Homo sapiens: one gene and its partners. The protein of the gene in region 1 interacts with the protein of each later gene in a biochemical or structural test. Each region holds a gene or a part of one and is shown on either strand. Other genes may lie near its edges.

What was found. The genes of interacting proteins can lie anywhere in the genome.
Region 2: the proteins of MAP3K5 (region 1) and CIB1 form a complex in vitro, tested with the Homo sapiens proteins (2 studies listed by BioGRID and IntAct).
Region 3: of the proteins of MAP3K5 (region 1) and MBP, one has a biochemical effect on the other in vitro, tested with the Homo sapiens proteins (one study listed by BioGRID).

Annotation. Positions count from the first base shown.
Region 1 is NC_000006.12:136,789,470-136,797,161, reverse strand, and holds the start of MAP3K5 (mitogen-activated protein kinase kinase kinase 5), read left to right. Parts: upstream 1-4,684; 5' UTR 4,685-4,773; coding exon of another isoform or gene 4,774-5,004; coding exon 5,005-5,452; intron 5,453-7,692. UniProt on the Homo sapiens protein: Serine/threonine kinase which acts as an essential component of the MAP kinase signal transduction pathway. Plays an important role in the cascades of cellular responses evoked by changes in the environment.
Region 2 is NC_000015.10:90,230,919-90,238,095, reverse strand, and holds the start of CIB1 (calcium and integrin-binding protein 1), read left to right. Parts: upstream 1-4,154; 5' UTR 4,155-4,210; coding exon 4,211-4,261; intron 4,262-4,392; coding exon 4,393-4,427; intron 4,428-5,648; coding exon of another isoform or gene 5,649-5,768; coding exon 5,769-5,877; intron 5,878-6,588; coding exon 6,589-6,739; intron 6,740-6,882; coding exon 6,883-7,001; intron 7,002-7,073; coding exon 7,074-7,162; coding exon of another isoform or gene 7,163-7,177. UniProt on the Homo sapiens protein: Calcium-binding protein that plays a role in the regulation of numerous cellular processes, such as cell differentiation, cell division, cell proliferation, cell migration, thrombosis, angiogenesis, cardiac hypertrophy and apoptosis.
Region 3 is NC_000018.10:77,010,761-77,017,783, reverse strand, and holds part of MBP (Golli-MBP), read left to right. Parts: intron 1-515; coding exon 516-952; coding exon of another isoform or gene 953-970; exon of another isoform or gene 971-4,991; intron 4,992-7,023. UniProt on the Homo sapiens protein: The classic group of MBP isoforms (isoform 4-isoform 14) are with PLP the most abundant protein components of the myelin membrane in the CNS. They have a role in both its formation and stabilization.

The DNA.
Region 1 (7,692 bases):
AGATTCTATACCTAGACTCCACCAAATGGCTCCTAGAATTGATAAACAATGTCGGTATAGTTTCAGGATACAAAATCAATGTATAAAAATCAGTAGCATTTTCATATACCAATAACGTTCAAGCTGAGAGACAAGTCAAGAACACAGTTCCATTTATAATAGCCACACACACACACACACACACGCACACAATCTAGGAATACATCCAATCAAGGAAGTGAAAGATCCCTACAAGGAGAATTACAAAACACTGTTGAAGGAAATCATAGATGACACAAACAAACAGAAAAATATTCCACGCTGATGGATTGGAAGAATCAATCTTGTTTAAATGGCCACACTGTCCAAAGCAATCTACAGATTCAATGGTATTCCTAAGAAACTACCAACATCATTTTCCACAGAATTAGAAAAACTATTCTACAATTCATATGGAACCAAAAAGGAGCCTGTAGAACAGCAGGAAAAAATAAAATAAAATAAAATAAAACCCCAAAAGAGCCTGAATAGCTAAAGCCAAAGCCAGAGGCATCATATTACCTAACTTCAAACTGTACTATAAGGCAACAGTAACCCAAACAGCACGGTACTGGTACAAAAACAGACACTCAGACTGATGGAACGGAGTAGAGAACTCAGAAATAAAGCCGTACACCTACCGCCATCTGATCTTCAACAAAGTCGATAAAAATAAGCAATGGGGAAGGACTCCCTGTTCAATAAGTGGTGCTGGCTAGCCTTATGCAGAATAAAACTGGACCCCTACCCATCACCATATACAAAAATTCACTCAAGATGGGTTAAAGATTTAAATGTAAGACCTCAAACCCTAGGAATCATAGAAGAAAACCTAGGAAATACCATTCTAGACATCGGCCTTGGGAAAGAATTTATGACTAAGTCCTGAAAAGCAATTTGCAGCAAAACGAAAAACTGACAGACGGGACCTAATCTAAACAGCTTCTGCACAACCAAAGAAACTATGAACAGAGTGTGGTGTTACGATATATATTGGTTTTCATCTGTGGTTTCTGGCTTGTAACTCCCATAACCCTCGTTATAGTCTTCTGTTATGTTGAGTGTGTTAGGCCTCAGAGGCAGGCCTCTAATTTTTTCCTGCTCTCCTTTTACCTGCTAACAACCCCCCACCTTTCTGACTGTGGGTCTTAAGACCTTCCCAGGAGAGGGTCCCATTGGATACACATGGACATAAAGATGGTAACAACAGACACTGCGGACGGGAGGGAAGGAGGGAGCAAGGGTTGAAAAACCAACTGTTGGGTGCTCTTTCTACTACCTGAGTGACAAGAACAATCGTACCCTAAACTTGAGCATCATGCAATATATCCATGTAACCTGCACATGTACCCCCGAATCTAAAATAAAACTTGAAATTACTTTAAAAAAAGCACTATTTTGCACAGCTCAGTGATTTTTAGGAATTCATGTGTGCCTTCACAGTGGGAGTGACTGTGCTCCTCCCAGAGTATTTTCTTCATGTACTTCTTCAAATACCTCCTACACTTCAGAAACTTCTCCAGATTTTCTTTATACCCTTCAACCAAAACAACATGCTGCAACAGCATGAATGTAGAAGCAGAAATGAGAATCCACTGTCATCTATTAAGCCAGACATTAAAAAGATTTGTGAAAATGCACAACGGTGTCACCATTCTTTTTGTTTTGTTTTGCAAAATACCGTTATTTTTCATTAAAAAAATTCACTTCAGCCTTTCAGCTGCCTAATTCAGATCCACAAAAATCCCACAGCCAAAGGGAACCCTGACTGTAGACTCACCCTCTGGATTCCTGTCCTTTCTTCCAGAATCTTGCCAGCTAGTTCCTCATTATCTCATAACCCTATGCTATGGAACATAAATTACCTAAACCGTGCCTTTTAGGTAGAGGGAGAATCTCTGGACCAGCTAGAAGCAGAATTTCAACATTGTATTGGGGTTTGGGTGCCTAACATAAAAAACATATTTAAAGTTAATAAATCAAAAAAGCCAGCAAAGTAAAACAAAAAATAAAAATTGTGTATGAAAATGGCTCTGAAAGGATCTGGAAGGAAAGCACAAAGTGAGAGGGTATAAAAAGTTACAGCTTTGGAAAATAGCTTGATATATAATTTCAGATTTTGTATTTCTACAGTAAAATGCTACTTGAGCATTTAGGCGTTTTAGTTTTCCACACATGAACCTCATCGATTTCCAGAGTTTGTGGTTCTTGGTGAGGATAGCGGGGAGGATTATCTTACTCCTACAAGGTTTTGGAGGTTTGACAAGTTGTTGAAAATATTAAAAGGCACATAACTATTACTAGCTCAGCAACATTTTGTTTCAGTATAATCACTGATTCACTACCTATTTTACTATTGATATTAATTCCAAAAGCTAGTGTGGGTCACATAGATTCCATTTTACATGAAGAATATAAAGTTTCCTTACTAGAAATTTACTTCTATTATTTTATACACCTTTAGAAAAATCTAATGTCACATTGATTCATTGATACAGTTGTGTAGCGGCTAGGTGTTTTTCCTCATGACTATTTCCTTCCTTCCTTTAATTATTATTTTTTTTTAAGATGGGGGTCTCACTATGTTGTCCAGGCTGATCTTGAACTCTTGGGCTCAAGCAATCCTCCCACCTTGGAGAAAATTAAAGAACTCTTTCCTTTAATTCTTTTTCTTTTTCTTTTTTTAGATGGAGTCTCGCTCTGTCGCCCAGTCTAGAGTGCAGTGTCGCCATCTCGGCTCACTGCAACCTCCACCTCCCGGGTTCAAACGATTCTCCTGTCTCAGCCTCTCGAGTAGCTGGGATTACAGGCGGCTGCCACCACGTCCAGCTAATTTTTGTATTTTTAGTAGAGACGGGGGTTTCACCATGTTGGCCAGGCTGGTCTTGAACTCCTGACCTCAAGTGATCTGCCCGCCTCGGCCTCCCAAAGTGTTGGGATTACAGGCGTGAGCCACTGCGCCCAGACTTTCCTTTAATTCTTTACTATTCAGCTATTTTATCCTTCCTTCTTACCCAGTTTGAAATGTAATTCATGGCTGGGCTGGGTGGTTCACGCCTGTAATCCCAGCACTTTGGGAGGCCGACGCGGGCATATCACCTGAGGTCAGGAGTTAGAGACCAGCCTGGCCAACATGGTGAACCCCACACCCCTCCCCCTCCCGTCTCTACTAAAAATACAAAATTAGCCTGGTGTGGTGGCGCATGCCTGTAATCCCAGCTATTCGAAAGGCTGAGGCAGGGGAATCGCTTGAACCCGGGAGGCAGAGGTCGCAGGGAGTCGAAATCGCGCCATTGCACTCCAGCCCGGGCAAGAAGAGCGAAACTCCGTCTCAAAAAAAAAAAAAAGTAATTTACATTTTCTTCTGCCTTTTTCACAGGACTCACTAGTCTCAGTTCCTGGAGATGGGAAGTACAAAACCTGTTTCTTTACTCAGTTGTAACTTGCACTGGCTTTCCTAACAATTACAGCATTCTGGGGTTCTCTGGGAACTTACACATCTGTTCTTTGCTCCCCAAATAAGCAGGTACTTTTTTTGATTGCTCTTAAACAATCTGGGTATTTCCCTCCCGGCCTCGCGTGATGCAGTTTAAAAAATAGAATAGGTCACGTTATTCCCCTGTTTCATCTTGTTGATAATTTGTGGAGTCGGGTAGAGACTCCATCTTCTATCTTAAGTATCTGGCGCTTGTGGGGGAATTAAGATCCTAAATGAGAATACTAAGTCCTTCGGCAGTTGGCACTAATCAATTACTCATTACTGATAACGGAATGAGCCACTGGAAATTTTAAAAGGAAAAGTACATGGGAGAACCTGATCAATTTAGCCAGCCACTTCTGGAGTGCCACAGTCACTAATGAAGCAACCTCCAGTGCAGGCCCTGGCTCCAGGGCGCTATGTACAACCTCCTGCCTCGCGCAACGTGGGTCTCCCGGAGCCTATCCTGCCAGCGCCGCGCACGGTCCCAGTCCACCAGGCCGCCAAGGCCCGGAGGGGGGCGCCCTAGTCGCGGGGAACACTGGAAATGCTTCAGGGGCGGACTCCGAAGACCGAGTATTGCCTCGAGGGACTTTCTGCGCCACCCCGTAATCGCTTGCGCTCCAGGTCTTCGTAGGTGGGGGCCGGGTGGGTGAAGACTGGGACCCTATGCCACGCGCAGCACTCAGAGGAGGGCTGGGGTCCCAGGGCCGCAGCGCGGTCAGTTCAGTCCGGGCTCGAGCTTCCTAGCAGCGCCCTCCTTGGGGGCTGGCCCTGACCCTCGGTGCCGCTACGAGTGGGTGGCCAGAAGCTGGTGGTGGAGAGGGAGAGCGTCTGCAAGGAACGACGAGGCTGGCGCCGGGACCACGCGGCGGAGGCGATCGAAAGAGAAACGAGGCCAGGCAAGGAGGAGGAAATCCACCCGATGAAGGCGAGCTGCCGCCTAAGAGGGAGGAGGGTCCTTTCGGCTGCCGCTGCTGCTGTTCCGGGACGCCGCCTGGGGAGCCAGCCCGCTCGTAAGGTGCGCGCCAGGTAGCTCCGCACCCAGGGGGCGCCCTTCCTGGCCCCTCCCAGAGCGGCCGGGACGGAAGGAGCTGCGCGGCGCGGCGCGGCGCGGCGCGGCGGGTGGCGAGGGCGGGCTGCACCCCGAGCGCGGCGCCCTTGAGCTGCACCGCGGCGCAGGTTTGCGAGCCGACTTGTCAGCCGGCCAAGAAAAGGAAGCTCCGTCCCTTCCCGCTCACCCGGCTTCCCCACCCCTTGTACTCTAAACTCTGCAGAGGGCGAGCGGCGCGGCCACGGAGGCGCCGAGGAGGAGCGAGCCGCCGCCGGGCAGCGGCGTGCCCTCGGGGGAGAGGGCGCCGGAGAGGAGGCGGCGGCGCGGCGGCGAGGGCGCGGCGCGCGATGGCAGCTGCTTAGCCCGGCGGGCGCGGAGCAGCCCCGAGCTGTGGCTGGCCAGGCGGTGCGGCTGGGCGGGGGACGCCGCCGCCGTTGCTGCCCGGCCCGGAGAGATGAGCACGGAGGCGGACGAGGGCATCACTTTCTCTGTGCCACCCTTCGCCCCCTCGGGCTTCTGCACCATCCCCGAGGGCGGCATCTGCAGGAGGGGAGGAGCGGCGGCGGTGGGCGAGGGCGAGGAGCACCAGCTGCCACCGCCGCCGCCGGGCAGCTTCTGGAACGTGGAGAGCGCCGCTGCCCCTGGCATCGGTTGTCCGGCGGCCACCTCCTCGAGCAGTGCCACCCGAGGCCGGGGCAGCTCTGTTGGCGGGGGCAGCCGACGGACCACGGTGGCATATGTGATCAACGAAGCGAGCCAAGGGCAACTGGTGGTGGCCGAGAGCGAGGCCCTGCAGAGCTTGCGGGAGGCGTGCGAGACAGTGGGCGCCACCCTGGAAACCCTGCATTTTGGGAAACTCGACTTTGGAGAAACCACCGTGCTGGACCGCTTTTACAATGCAGGTGCGTGTGTGACCCCTTTCCCATCCCGCGCGGTCGGGACCCGCGTTTAATCTGGCGGTCTTCGGGGCATTTCATTTTTCTGGGCGGGAAGCATTTACTTCTTGCCCCACTTTGGGGGCAGCGAGCGCCGCTGCGTGACTGCTCCTGTCGCTCGCCGCTCCGGAGAGAGCGTGTGTGCTTGTGCAAGAGTCTGTGTGTACTTGTGCGATAGACCTATGGATCCACCCACCGCCCAGCGCTGGAGCCCTGGGTCCATGCGATCGACTTGAACTGTTCTCCAGCAGTGTGAGATATTTGCCCCAGTCAGTCTTTCTCCTTTCAGTGTCTCGGTTTCGCTTCTGTGAGGTTTGGTCCCTGTTTTCTTTCTGCATATACCTGTGACCGTTTTAGATGAGGTTCTCCTTTTCTCTGTGTAGTTTTGAGAGTACGGGAACGATGACATACCATGCACGCAGAGTGTAACTATATTAATTTGCATGCCATGTGATGATCTTCCCAACTCACCTTACCTTCGATAAGTTTTAGTAGCTTGAATTTCCTCTCACCAACCCAGACTTTGAAGTAATTACAGTGCTTCCAAAGGCAATAACATTACAACTTACACTGAACTTGTGTGTTATCTTTGTAAGGATTTTGGTGAAAGAACCAGGGCCTGTTTTTTATTACCCCATAAACCATGGTGGGCTAGAAAGTTTGTAATTTAACATTGTCTAAAACACCTGTATGCTATCCTAATAATAAGATTAGTTTCGCCATTAAAGTGATTGCTAGCATAATCCATGAAAGAAATGTATCTTTCAACCTATCTCAAATTTCAGAAAATGTTAAGGCAGTTCTAGTAACTGAAGCACTTAGCTGTTAGCAAATGTTAGGAATAATACCATATTATGGAAATTAACCTTTAGTCCCCTGTACGTCCAGTGTTGAGAATATATACATATTTATGTTTACATTTGTGGGTAAAAACTTGGTTTAGTAGTTTCAAAACAATACACTTCTTGCATTTGTGATCACATAAAAGGCTTTATTTTCCAATCTTGTTTTCAATTCTGATTCTCTTTAGTGTCTTCCAAACACCTGAAGTGGGCTTATGTCAGTTTTGGAATTCAGCCAAAGCTGAATATTTTGAGAACAACAAGACCTTCATGTTAAGGAAGCCAGACTAAATAAACTAGGACTTTCTCGTTCTGGTATTTTTAAAATAGTTTTGGTCTTCATAACTGAGCATGGCTATAATATAGCTTGATTCTTTGGGTAGCTTGCTATAAAAGTTACATCAACATAACTTTTCTAAAAATTGTAGCACTCTTATTTTTGGATTATAATTTGGAAGAAACTTCAAAGAACTAAAAGATATGAGAGGAAAATACCCAACTGAACACTTGAGCCTATTTTTATTGCACTGATTGGGCGTTTTTTTCCTAGGGCTCTAGAAAAAAAATGTTAAACTCTAAGCTAATTTGAAAGAAACTTTCCTAACAAGGCTTGGTTTCTGTTATTCTCCAAATACTGTCTCTGGGAAAGGGAGAGAGAATGATTAGAAGGGAGCTGAAGTTTGAGTGTATTTCATTGAATCCTCCAAACAAGCCTGTGAAGGAAGTACTTACCTTCTTAGGTGAGAAAACCCAGGGATCCCTAACTGGCCCTAGGATTCATAGGGAGTAAGTGGCCAATGCAGGATTCCACTTCAGGTGGCTGACCCTAAAAGGTTGTGCTTGGGCCAGGCGTGGTGGCTCACGCCTGTAATCCCAGCACTTTCGGAGGCCAAGGCGGGTGGATCACCTGAGGTCAGGAGTTCCAGGCCAGCCTCCTGGCCAACATGGTGAAACCCTGTCTCTACTAAAATGACAAAAATTAGCCAGGCATGGTGGTGCACACCTGTAGTCCTAGCTACTCAGGAGGCTGAGGCAGGATAATCACTTGAACCTGGGAGGCAGAGGTTGCAGTGAGCTGAGATTGTACCACTGCACACTCCAGACTGGGTGACAGAATGAGACTCTGTCTTAAAAAAAAAAAAAAAAAAAAAAAAAAAAAGAGGTTGTGCTTGGCCCTTGCTTCCTCCATTTAGGTGGGCTGAGTTACTCTCAGAATCAAGGGAAGCTCCCTATCTTGGAATCATGTGAGTGAGCTGGCAAAGATCTTACCAGGCATTTAGGTGTGTATGGAATAGTGGGGAGGGCATGCTCTCGGAAGCCTCTTTTTCCTGCGCCCACTCTGTCCCTTCGTACTGCTTCTTTCAA
Region 2 (7,177 bases), on another chromosome or scaffold:
ACTCCTGACCTCAGGTGATCCACCTGCGTTGGCCTCCCAAAGTGCTGGGATTACAGGCGTGAGCCACCGCACCTGGCCAAAAATGTTTAAAAGTGAAGCTAATCCTTTGAGCTGGAGCTGCAAGGTAAAAGACAACAACAACAAAAAAGTGAAGCTAAGCATAATTTTGATGATCAAATGTAGTATCTTATTCTCACCTTACTGCAATGTCTGCCTCCCAGACTCAAGCAATCCATCCACCTCAGCCTCCCAAGTAGCTGGGACCACAGGCACTTGCACCAGGCCTGACTAATGTAGTATCTTATTCTAATAAAAGAGAATCTTATCTGACAGGCGAAAAAATTTAAAATGAGATAATAAAAATAATACAAAACCAAAAAAAGGAGAAAAAAAAGAGATAATCTTAGACATTTTTTCAAATAAGATATAAAGATGGCCAACAAGCACATTTGGGATGTTTAACGTCATTAATCAATAAGAAAAGGCAAATCAAAATCACAATGAGGGGCTGGGTGCGGTGGCTCACACCTGTAATCCCTGGACCAGCACATTGGGAGGCTGACGCAGGTGAATCACGAGGTCAAGATACCGAGACCATCCTGGCCAACATGGTGAAACCCTGTGTCTACTAAAAATACAAAAATTAGCTGGGCGTGGTGGTGGGCACACACCTGTAGTCCCAGCTACTTGGGAGGCTGAGGCAGGAGAATCACTTGAACCTGGGAGGTGGAGGTTGTGGTGAACTGAGGTGGTGCCACTGCATTCCAGCCTGGTGACAGAGCAAGACTCCATCTCAAAAAAAAAAAAAAAAAGGGAAAAAAAGAAAATTACAATAAAGTCCGGGCACGGTGGCTCACGCCTGTAATCCCAGCACTCTGGGGGGCCAAGGTGGGTGGATCACGAGGTCAGGAGTTCGAGACCAGCCTGGCCAATATGGTGAAACCCTGTCTCTACTAAAAATACAAAAAAATTAGCCAGGTGTGGTAGTGGGCGTCTGTAATCTCAGCTACTCGGGAGGCTAAGGCAGGAGAATCGCTTGAATCTGGGAGGCAGAGGTTGCAGTGAGCTAAGATCGCACCACTGCACTCCAGCCTGGTGACAGAGTGAGACTCTGTCTCAAAAAAATAAATAAAATAAAAAATAAAAGTATATCAGCAGCTCGGTTTTATCACTGTACCAAGAGTTGATCAGGTACAGGAGGGACAATATGCTAACCAGATTCACCGAGGACTACCAAATGATTCAGACTGCCCATTTAATAATCTACCATGAGAGGCCGGGCGTGGTGGCTCAGCACTTTGGGAGGCTGAGGGAGGCGGATCAAGAGATCAGGAGATCGAGACCATCCTGGCCGACATGGTGAAACCCCGTCTCTACTAAAAAAAAATACAAAAATTAGCTGGGCGTGGTGGTGCACTCCTGTAATCCCAGCTACTCAGGAGGCTGAGGCATGAGAATCAGGTGAACCTGGGAGGCAGAGGTTGCAGTAAGCCAAGATCATACCACTGTACTCCAGCCTGGTGACAGAGTGAGACTCCATCTCACAAATAAAAATAATTTACAATGAGAAATATGCCAAATGGCACAAAAGGTTCTTGCTGGCTGGTCAGTGTACAAAATGAATCAGGAAGCAAAATGAAAACCAAAGGTTGTTCCATGAAGGGTTCAGAGCCAAGTGAAGTGACTGAGAGATCTAGATCACAGCTGGTCACCAGGCACAAAGCTGACTCTCATGTCTTCACTATAAAGAGATACTTATGGCTGGGTGCAGTGGCGCACGCCTGTAATCCTAGCACTTTGGGAGGCCAAGACAGGCGATCACCTGAGGTTGGGAGTTCGAGACAAGCCTGACCAACATGGAGAAACCCCGTCTCTACTAAAAATACAAAACTAGCTGGGTGTGGTGGCACATGCCTGTAATCCGAGCTATTCAGGAGGCTGAGGCAGGAGAACTGCTTGAACTCAGGAGGCGGAGGTTGCGGTGAGCTGAGATCATGCCATTGCACTCCAGCCTGGGCAACAGGAGTGAAACTCTGTCTCAAAAAAAAAGAAGACAGATACTTATTACCATGCAGTCCAGGTATTCGCCTTGGCTTGTAAGAGGCAAACAAGGTCTATTTAGTACAGGAGACATAATGACAGCTTCTTGCTTTTTGCCTAAGCTTTTACTAACAGAAGACTAACTCTTTCTCGGACAGAAAGAGCCTGCTATTAAGAGAAAAATGATCGGCCGGGCACGGTGGGTCACGCCTGTAATCCCAGCACTTTGAGAGGCCGAGGTGGGCGAATCACGAGGTCAGGAGATCCAGACCATCCTGGCTAACAGGGTGAAACCCCGTCTCTACCAAAAATACAAAAAAATTAGCCGGGTGTGGTGGCGGGTGCCTGTAGTCCCAGCTGCTGGGGAGGCTAAGGTAGAAGAATGGCGTGAACCCAGGAGGCGGAGCTTGCAGTGAGCCAAGATCATGCCACTGCACTCCAGCCTAGGCGACACAGCGAGACTCTGTCTCAAAAAAAAAGAGAAAAATGATCAGGTTGGGATGGGCCTATACCCTAGTTATTTTTTTTTATTTTTATTTTTTGAGACAGAGTCTCACTCTGTTGCCCAGGCTGGACTGCAGTGGCACAATCTCCGCTCACTGCAACCTCCAGCTCCCAGGTTTAACCATGTCTGGCTAATTTTTGTATTTTTAGTAGAGATGGGGTTTTGCCATGTTGGCCATGCTGGTCTTGAACTCCTGGCCTCAAATGATCCGCCTGCTTCAGCCTCCCAAAGTGCTGAGATTACAGGCATGAGCCACCGCGCCTGGCCTTGAATATTTCTACAATGATGGAATGTACCTGTTAATACAGTGTGTCTTATCAAACACATGCTGCCAAGGAGAGCACTGGGTATTCTTCCAGTGTAAAGTAGATTCCTAGGCAGTCTAGGGAGTCAGGAAAGGCTTCCCTGAGGATGAGATGGAAGAGGGACTGAGGGCCCAAAGTGGCTGAAAGACAGAGAGCCAATAGGAGGAAGTCCAGTTACAGAGGGCCAGGATTTGGGTTTTTAACCATTTAATGGTTATAAACTGAGACTAACATACTCAGATTTAGACTTTACAAAGATCAGCAAGTATAATGGATTGGAAGGATCAAGAATTAATCCCAGCCTGACCAACACAACCTCCACTTCCTCCTCCCAGCAGTTTGGAATCCTTACCTTTTGCAATAGTATACGTTCATTCATTTATTATGCATTCGATAATATTTACTGAGAGCCTACTATGTGCCAAACATTATCCTAGAGGTTAAGAGGGGACAAGAGCAAAGGGTCAGCAGTCTAGGGGTGAGATGGAGTCAAAAGGACGGCAGGTCAGCTGGAATGATGAGAACAGCAGTGGAGAGCCTTTAAAAGTGCCTTGGACTGGACCGATTACCTTCTAAATGCCGGCGCCCGGAAAAATCACTAACACCCTTTGGACTTACGTATTTCCATCTTTGTAAAATGGGAACCTACCTCGCAAGGGATGTTGCAACAATCGAAGAAAACTATGCACAATGCTTGACATCCAGTGGGTCCTCAGTAAATAGCCTAAGAAGGAAGCAAGGTTATGGTTACTTCTGGAAGAGGTGGCTTGGGGGCTGCGACAGGTGCAGCGATTGCCTGATGATAACATCTAGAAAAGCCCTTGCTGGGCAGAGGGGCAGCCGACGACCCCCGCCACTCAGCGAGTCTCCAGGTTTCCCGGAAACGCTAGCTCCAGTGACTTCTCAGATGCCCCTATGGGACCCCACCCAGGGCTGCCGCCGCCACCACCTACTGCAGCCGAAGCGGATGCACCTCGCGACTTTCCCCGCAGCCGCTGCCGGGGCCACAGCGAGGTCATGACGCCCGTGACGCATACGCAGCCAGCACGCACGCGCGCGGCGTGGCCCGCCCCCCCCTCCCACCCCGGAGGCGGGGCCGTGAGTCCCGGGCTCCGCCCCGGAGCGTCGGGCCCCTCCCCGGGCCCCGCCTCCAGCTCGCCTAGGACCGCTTGGAGCCGGCAGCTCGCCTGCCAAACCCGGCTGGGAACGCCTGGCAGCTTTTAGGAGGGGGCGGGCCCGGGGGTGGTGGCCCCAGGAGCGGTTGCCGCGGGGACCGGGCAGTGACGCGGCCCAAGGGCGGAAGTGAGAAAGTTGTCTGCGTCTCGAGGCGAGTTGGCGGAGCTGTGCGCGCGGCGGGGCGATGGGGGGCTCGGGCAGTCGCCTGTCCAAGGAGCTGCTGGCCGAGTACCAGGTGCGCGGGACGCCTGGCCCTGGGGAGCTCGCGTGCGGGCCTCTTCTCGGGAGCAGGGTCCGGGAGCTGGCTGCGGGGCGGCCGCGGCCTCCCAGCGGTCCGCTAATCCCCGCTCTGGCTTTGCCTTCCAGGACTTGACGTTCCTGACGAAGCAGGAGATCCTCCTGTAAGTGCTGCCTTGAACCCTGCCTCCGACCCCGGGATCCTCTAGAGACAGCTTCGGGGGCGCTGTCCCGAGGGAGGGGCGGGGGCTGGCCTGAGGTCTGCAGAGGAGCGGGAGCTGGAGGCCGGGAGACCTAGCCCGGGCTGCGCCCTCCTCCCGGCACGCCCTCCCCGCCCTCGCCTGAGGCCCCAGCGTGGCACCGCGGAGCCACCTTACAGCCTCCAGGAAAAGTTAGGCGCTCTTTGACCCTGGGCTCCACTAGCTTCAGCACTGCCGAACTTCCTGCCCCAGTCCGGCAGGGGCCGACCTTGCCCAGTGGCTAAACCACAGAAGCCTTGGGGAGCCCGGCTCCTTCTCCCAACTTTACCTGAATAATACAGTAACCGTTATCGCTTTCTGAGCACTCACCATGTGCCAGGGACTGTGCTAAATGGTTGCCTGCGTTACCTAATTTAATCTTTAGGAGAGAGGTACTGGACAATGAAACAGGTTCAGAAAGGTTTGGTAACTGCTTAAGACAACACTCTGAGTAAGTAGATTTGAACTTGGGCTGGAAGCCCTTTTGCCGGATTTATGCAGGCCAGGTTCCTGTGGCAAAGATAAGCTCATGGGAAGGAGGTGGAGGCCGAGGAGGACAGTTCAGTGTGGTTGCTAAAAAGGAGGCTTTGAGGGTAAGAGATCCCTGGAGTGAAGGTGAGAATGAGATTTTTGGTTTTGCTCTTTTCTCCGTTTTTTTTTTTTTGAGACAGCGTCTCGCTCTGTCGCCCAGGCTGGAGTGCTGGGGCACGATCTTGGCTCACTGCAGGCTCTGCCTCCGGGTTCAAGTGATTCTCCTGCCTCCGGGTTCAAGTGATTCTCCTGCCTCAGCCTCCTGAGTAGCTGGGATTATAGGCACCCGCCACCATGCCCGGCTAATTTTTGTATTTTTAGTAGAGAAGGGGTTCACCATGTTGCTCAGACTGGTCTCAGACGCCTGACCTCCAAAGCTCCGCCCGCCTTGGCCTCCCAAAGTGCTGGGATTACAGGTGTGAGCCACCGTGCCTGGCCAATTCTTTAGGGCCAACTTCTGGCTCCTTTCCCAACTTCTTCATCCCTTGGGGATCTCTAGAATCAGTGCCAAGCACATAGTAAATGCTCAGTAAATACTCATTGCAAGAATAGACTCCTAGGCTGTACTGCCTTGTGACATGTCCTTTTGCTTACCGTTGCCTGATGACTCGGAAGTTCTGTGTACGTGGTTTTAGCTCCTCACCTGGTTGACAATGAGCAGCAGGCAAGGAGTGGGAATGAACACACAGGGAGACCGATCGCTGAGAACACCGACAGTTCCCCTCTCTCTACCAGAGCCCACAGGCGGTTTTGTGAGCTGCTTCCCCAGGAGCAGCGGAGCGTGGAGTCGTCACTTCGGGCACAAGTGCCCTTCGAGCAGATTCTCAGCCTTCCAGAGCTCAAGGTGCAAGCGCTCCCCTCCTTTGACACCTCTCCCACCACTCCCTCCCTGCTAGACCCCCTAACTCCATCTGCCACTAGCTTTGGGATCATGGGGTCACTGGTCCCCACTCTGGTCATTTTTCTGCTTAGTTCTGATTTTCTAGGGGCAAGGACTTTACCAAAATCACCTGGCAGAATTATCTAGAATGGTGCTTTTCAAATGGGGATTCTAGAACATAATCTTGGAAGTTCAAAGAAGTTTTGTCCCTTAAGAGGAGTTGAGGTACCTCATTAGAGTTTGAGGAACCGTGTTCTAGAGGCTGATTGCCACTCCGTAAGGCTGCTGCAAAATTTCTGTGCAAAGGGCCTGGCCCGGTGCCTGTAACACAATAGCTGTTCAAGTAAATATTTGTGTTTTAAAATAACCAGCCCATCTCGTTCCCTTTGTTTAGGATGACTTCTTCTTCCCTCTCTGCCCACACTTACGTTGTATGTGACCTGCCTTTGGGTTAAACACTTGACTCCCAGGAAGCCATCTCAGTCCCTTCCCCAGCTGGGTCAGTTTGCTTTCCTGTGCCCCCACTGCCCTCCATGTTGGCCCCAAAGCACTGACTGTTCACCCCCACGAGGCTGAGCTCGCTGGTGCTGGTCCTGTGACCTGCTCTCTCAAGTTTCTGGTAGGCTTTAATGAGCGTGTGACCTGGGCCACGTCCTGTGGCGTTTGTTCTCCTAGGCCAACCCCTTCAAGGAGCGAATCTGCAGGGTCTTCTCCACATCCCCAGCCAAAGACAGCCTTAGCTTTGAGGACTTCCTGGATCTCCTCAGTGTGTTCAGTGACACAGCCACGCCAGACATCAAGTCCCATTATGCCTTCCGCATCTTTGGTGAGAACCAGGAGCAGCCCGGCAGGACACCACCCCTTCCCACGTGGGCTTTGTGGTGGCCCTGCTTGGGAAATGGGCGCCGTTTGGGGAACCTCAGAGCCCCTCCCAACCGTGTCTTTTGGCTTCCTGTGTCTGCTCTCTAGACTTTGATGATGACGGAACCTTGAACAGAGAAGACCTGAGCCGGCTGGTGAACTGCCTCACGGGAGAGGGCGAGGACACACGGCTTAGTGCGTCTGAGATGAAGCAGCTCATCGACAACGTGAGCAGCTGAGCAGGCCTGGGAGCGGGAGGGAGCAGTTGGGGCTCTGGCCTGAAACTCTCCCTTTCCCAGATCCTGGAGGAGTCTGACATTGACAGGGATGGAACCATCAACCTCTCTGAGTTCCAGCACGTCATCTCCCGTTCTCCAGACTTTGCCAGGTATGACAGTGGTCC
Region 3 (7,023 bases), on another chromosome or scaffold:
TGAAACAATTCTAAATGCCCCACTTCTTTCATGCATGAATTGCAAAAAGATGTGGCAAGTTTTGTTTCTACCAAGAAAACTAAAAACACCTTTTGTCAAATAAATGCTCCTTGCATATTTAACTTATGCACCAGTGGCCTTTTAAACAGTCAATGTCCCATCAAGGTGCCTGCACATCTGGGCTCTCCGGGAGCAGCCATGGCAGCACCCGGGAAGAAACGCTGATGTGGCTGCTCTGCATGCTCAGATGACTTCATCGGGAAGCCTGGGTGCATTTTACGCTGGGTGCCAAATCTCGAGTAACTGAGGAATTCCCAGAGCCTTCTGAAACACAGAGCTGCAATAAGGCTGCTCCATCCAGGTTAGCTCCATCCTAGGCCAAGGGCTTTATGAGGACTGCACATATTCTGTGGGTTTTATAGGAGACAGCTAGGTCAAGACCCCTCAGAGAAAGCTGCTTTGTCCGGTGCTCAGCTTTGCACAGGCCCGTATTCATATCTCATTGTTGTTTGCAGGAGAGGCAGATGCGAACCAGAACAATGGGACCTCCTCTCAGGACACAGCGGTGACTGACTCCAAGCGCACAGCGGACCCGAAGAATGCCTGGCAGGATGCCCACCCAGCTGACCCAGGGAGCCGCCCCCACTTGATCCGCCTCTTTTCCCGAGATGCCCCGGGGAGGGAGGACAACACCTTCAAAGACAGGCCCTCTGAGTCCGACGAGCTCCAGACCATCCAAGAAGACAGTGCAGCCACCTCCGAGAGCCTGGATGTGATGGCGTCACAGAAGAGACCCTCCCAGAGGCACGGATCCAAGTACCTGGCCACAGCAAGTACCATGGACCATGCCAGGCATGGCTTCCTCCCAAGGCACAGAGACACGGGCATCCTTGACTCCATCGGGCGCTTCTTTGGCGGTGACAGGGGTGCGCCCAAGCGGGGCTCTGGCAAGGTGAGCTCTGAGGAGTAGAGGAGTTTTAGTTTAAATGGAAAAAGCAAAGGAGAAATCAGTAGGTGAACTCAGCCATTAGAGGAAGAACTGGCACGTAGCCTCTTGCTGTCTAAGGTCTCGTTCCGTGCTGGAGAATGCATATGAGCCCAAGAGTGTGGGCCTGAGTGGCTGCTTAGGACGTTTTCGTTTAACTCACCCCCTCTTTTCCTCACAAGGGATGGTGGCCGGGGTGTGGCTCAGGAATGTAAGGACATGCTGAATTCTGGATCTCTAAGGGTGCCTGGACATGGGCGTTGCAGAAAGAGAGCCACATTCTCAGGGTCTCTGGTGGTGTGTGCTTGCGGACTTGATGACTGATGTTGCCTCTGCAGCCCACACGCTGGGGTTCAACACTGGGTTATGCTCGTTTTTTCCTGGAGTCAGTGCTGCTAGCTTCATGTTGCTCTGCGACAATCATAGGATTGAGGTCGAGGAAGACTTTTGAACAAACTCCTCAATTTAAATCCGCCTTGAGCAAACGTTCTCTGTGGTCTGAGAAGTGGAAGGGGGGAGGGATAAATGAGTGTCTATGAATCAAAGCTTTATTATCTTGTGATTCCATTAATTTGCATACAGAGTCTTAGAAGTTTCTTTATTCAAAAGCAAATGTGGATAAAAATGTATTACAAAAAAAAAAAACTCTGCTATGGGGTCCAGAGTCTAGGAGTGGTTTCTGCAGTTGATTGTCAGTGGAGAACCTGTGGCTGCTGGTTCATCAAAGCGCTGGTCCCTGAGTGCCATTCAGATTGCAGATGCAGTATTTTACGTGATGTTTAGAGTGTTTGGTGGTTGTGTAATTTTGGAGAGAAAGAAGTTTTTCCCAAAAAAGTCCCTAGTTTATTGGGTGTTCTCACACAACCTGTAAGATGAAGCTGTTTTTCTGCCTGTGTGCAGGGCTGATTCTGGAATTCCAGAAGGCCTTGTGGGAGCGTAAAAGGCTTTTGAATAAAGTGTGGAACAGAGCGCCTCATTCTGATAACATGCAATCATAAAAACCATAGGGCAACTTGGAGTTAAGGAGTTTCTAGAATTTGCTTTAGTCTCCAACTGCAATTCTTTATTGATCATGAAATTGTTGAAGAGAAACACAAATGTCAGTTTTACCTTTCCTGTGGGCGTGAAAGCACATCGAAGTTTCAGGCAACTGTTAACATCTCTACCATCTGTCTGAGTTGAGATTTCAGGTTGTGACACTTGCCGTGACTTATTTGTAAATGACATTTTGTGTGTCTTAGATACTAATGGAATTCATATTCTGGCTAGTTCTTTCAGTGCATTTGTAGACATGTTCTTTTCCTTTGTAGCAGTCCTCCCTCACCCTGAAATGTTGGTGTTCTAACCGATTTCTAATGCTAATTTCAACTGGAAGCACTTTTTCAAGCCCAGCTATCAAACCACACCAGACATGTATGGATTCGGGTTGCCCAATAAAGCGTTGCTATTATGTAAGCATCCCTCACGCATACAGCATCACCAGTTTTGAAAGCTTGAACTATTCTGCTTACTTCAAGGTACAGAAAAAAAAAATGTACTTAAACTGTGCAGAAAAGATGAAATCACTGGATAATATGTATTATAAAATAAGCTTCATGTGAGTGACACTGGTTTAAGTTGAAATAAAATGGTGAAAGCATTGATATCAATCATTGTGACTTTATCTCAAAACAATATTGACACACATAGATGTTTTTCTTCCTTTATGGTAAGATTACAGCCTTTATTGTCTTAAATCTCTTATACTCTTCAATATTTTCAAAGAAAACATTCTAGTCTCAGAAATAGTCCATCTCTTTGCAAAACAGGGCTGGCCAATTATCAAGGACCCATAAAAATCAAAACACTTTCAAAAATTTTAAAAATAAAAATAATTTTCACATGATTGCTTTAGGAATTTTGAAGTATCCATTCTTTTCACTATGGAGTGTTGAATATAGAAGATTTTTTAATGAACAGGCTTGCCCTTTGATGCCAAAGGCAAAAAATAATAATAATAACATTTGCACGTGTGATCACAGAGCAGCTGTGAGGCATCCCGGGGGAGCGCACGCAGTGGGGATGTGATTGCTCCACTCAACTATTTTATCACAAAGTGTTGTAAACATGGGAGATGAAAGCTTAACTCTCTCTACACCCAGCTACAGACCCGCAATGGCCCTAAAAATCTGGGGTATTCATTGGGTGGGCTGCCATGGAGGAATTTTTGGTTTTGTTTTTATTTTTATTTGTTGTTCTGTTTACAAATCAGGAGAGCCCCTGTTTTTATATGCTAGGAAGGTCCTTGGGATAGGCCGAAGAGGTGTGCAAACGAGCAGTGGAAGGCCCGGGCCCTGTCTCTCAGGACCACGGCGGCCTGCCCCACACACAGTTCTGCTTCTCCCTATCTAGAACGAGGTTTTCCTGGCAGATTCCTGCCAGACTCTGAGTGGAGCCCCCCCATGACCCTATAAAAGGGGCTGTTTGTCCTCCTCCCACCCTCCTGTGCTCTTCCTCCCTCCCCTTGAGGGCACATGGCCGCTGGTACCACATGTTGGAGCGGCCGCCCCCGAGCCCGGGAATGCCCTAACAACACCCATGCTTGTGTTGCTGGGAGCTGACATTCAAGAAAAGTGCATTAAAAATTCCTTGAGAAGGCATATTCTTTTGAGAGCCGTAAATGAAAAGTGCATTCACGGAGAACATGCTCCTTTGTTGTGAGAGGAAAGAAAGGACTGTTGTTGCCTTTAAGGAACAGGTTTCCCAGTTCCCCGGAATGTCAGGGTCACATGAGGAATGGGTGAGCACTTAGGGCCAAGATTGTCGTGTGCTTGGCCCGGCAGCTTCTCTCTAAGTGACCTCTCCAGCATCACTCTGTGCCAGTGCTCATATCTGAGGCCACTTGAGTGTCACGAGGCAGAGCCTGGAAACATTAGCTTTGGAAACCGTTCCTTCCTTTTTATGTGGAGGAAGTAAGGTTTCACAAGACACCTAAGCTGGACATGGTGATGTGCCACTTGGATAGTTCCCAAAGCAGAAAGCAGCCAGGACATCCCAGTACCCCACTTCTCCGTGCCGTGTACTTTTAGGGAGGTTTTCGAAAGCTAGCTTCTTACCGATGATTTTGTCTATTTTTCTGTTTTATGTGAAAACCTTCATTTATAACCTGCTCTTCTCAGTGTTCTTCTATTCAGCATTCAGTATGACTTCTATGCCTCTAATTGCGACTGTATGGAGAAGAACTGTTTGTCATTCAGTGCCGTGGGATATAATCAGTCCTGTAAATTCATCAGAATGTTCTGTTGCCTGATTTTTTTTCCATTGCATTTTAATTTCATTAAACATATTTTAGTTCTACAGTAACCTAATTCCTCATTGTTACCATGAGATCCTAATTCTGTAGCTGTGTTCTGTAATCCCATGGGGCGTGTACCATTTGGAGACACATGAAGGATACAGTAGACAGCACGGAAGGCAGCAGCAACACACAGGGGTGTCCTCCCTCCCCAGAGCCCAGTGTGCACACAGAACCAAATTCAATCTCATTCATCGTGAGCTTGCATGGTAACTGATCCAGCCACTCAGTACCTCCATTGGATAAGAGATTTGGCCACAGATTCTTCTAGAGAAAATCCAAATGTGGAGGGTGCATTTGTTTCTGCACCCAAACAAATACCTTTTGAGATTTCTTATAGGCATTCCTCTCAAAGTCTCATTACTCTGATCAGTTATTGATCGGAGGCTACCCTGGCTCAGTCACCAGCTGCTCACTGTGTCCTTCTGTGGTCTCAGGAGCTGCAGTTGTTGCTGTTGTATGAATAGACGATAGTTAATTAGACTGGATGTGTCTGTACTGGCAGTGATTTTGCAACTTCCTCTGTATAAGCGATACATTTGTAAATCATGGGAATGTATTTGATGGTAATTGCCTGTGGTGGTTGTATCATGATTTAATTTTATTATGAGCTTTTGGCTTTATATATTTTTCTGCCTTTTTATGCATTCATTAAACAGTTTAACAGACCAAGGACAGTGTACTAATTGCATGCGAACTTCTTTAATTTGTCGTTTTTGGTTTGGTTGCCCCCACCACGTCAGTGTGCTGTGTTGCCGGCATTTTTGTGGCCTGGTGACACAGCTGGCAGGTAAGTGTGAGCACCCGAGCTCCTGCCCTTCTGTGTGGGAAGGTCACAGTTGCTCACTCATCTGCTTTTACTACACAGAGACATTTTACTGTCTTCTCTCACCTGACCTGTGCTTCTGTGTGGGAAGGTCACAGTTGCTCACTCATCTGCTTTTACTACACAGAGACATTTTACTGTCTTCTCTCCCCTGACAGTTCGGTGTTCTGGTCTTTCTATGGTGACTATTCTGATTCTGCCTGAAGTTTCTTGTGTTTCTCTCAAAGCATCATCCCGCAAATGTTAGGGAGGGTGGACGCTGAGCAGATCCCACTGGCAGGTGCTGTCATGGACACAGCCCGCCCCACCAGCATCTCCTGAATGAACGTGCACATGGGTGCCAGTGCCCACAGGGCCCCCCGGGAGCTCACACACAACGGGGGTCATGGGAACCTCGAGACACTGAAATGAGGGGATGGTGCTGGCTCTCTGAAAGATGATAATGAGTGTATGAGATGAAGCTGAAACTTGGGGTCTTTGAGAAATTAGAAACAAGAGTAAAGATAAGTGATTGGCTTGGATGCGGTCCTGCCTTTCATGTCCCATCAGACCCTCGTCTTAACTCATCTCCTCCCTTTAAACTCATTTGCATTTTAAAGCATTCATTTCTCTCATCGTTGATTTTCCTTTGATAAAAAGTCTGGACATTTGATAACAGGCAATTCTGATCGGTGAATTAGGAGCTTGGCTTGACATCTGAGGGAATAGATCATCCTTAGAAAAAAACACACAATAGCACTCGTGAAAATCACTTAGATATTGATACAAATTTAAGAAGTGTGGACATTTCCTATCAAACCCTGATTCAATGTTTTTAAAAGTTTTTTCCTTTATGGCTATCAGCACACTCTTAATGCTCTGAAATCATCCTACTTCATAAAAACGTAGTAAAAAAGAAGAAACAGCTAAAGAACACTGAACTCTCTTGAGGGAGCCCCATACAAGCGGGCTTAGCACACACAATTTCTCCTAAGAGGCTATTCTTGCCTTTCGTCTTCTCTGGCCCTTGCATTTGTCCTCCCTCTTCCTGGCTCTGGGAGTGGCAGGCAGCCGGGGTTACAGGTTGCATTTCCTGAAAACCATCAGTGGGATGTCTTATGGCTACCCCAGCCACCTGCCTTCCCCATGAGTAGACAGGGAGTCAGTAGAGGGGCTTCACGCCAGCCCACCAGAGCCACGAGAACATGCCTCACAGTGATGATCTTCTTTGTGAAGAAGAGCCATTGTAGGAGATGGAGGGAAAATTAATGGAAAGTTCTTCGCTTGTTGGCCCTGTACATAGCGTACACTTGCTCACGCTCATGGACACCAGCTGATGGGAGTCACTGCTTATGAGGACAGCCAAGTCTCATCAGCACAGCAACTCCCGCAGGCTTATCCACGGAGACCTCCTCTAAAGTGAATACTCAATTTACTTACCTTTAATATCATGAATTAAAGTCACCAGAAATTCCTGCTAACCTAGAAATAGCCTCTCTCATGCAGGGAGAATCCATCAGGAGACGTACAGCTAAGCACACACTCACCACAGATTTGCCTCTGAAAACCCCGGTGTGTTCACTTTCCATAATACTTCTAGAATGCTCCCACATTCTTCAGTGTCGGAACTACTCTATTCTCATGCATACTCAGCTGCTAACCTGGTTAAAAGAATCCATTTCATCTGCAGCCAATACATCTCCTGAAACCTATTACGCTGATTTCATCTCTTGACCACTATAAGTCTCCTCTTTCTCTTCTCTCTCTGTCTTCATTTTGCTGTAGCTGATAGTCAAGAAATAGACATTTCTTGCAGGGCACTTACCTTGGTCCTATAATAATAGTCTTTCAACTGCAGCCCTCAAAGTTCATTGATATAGCAGATACTCTCGTGTAACT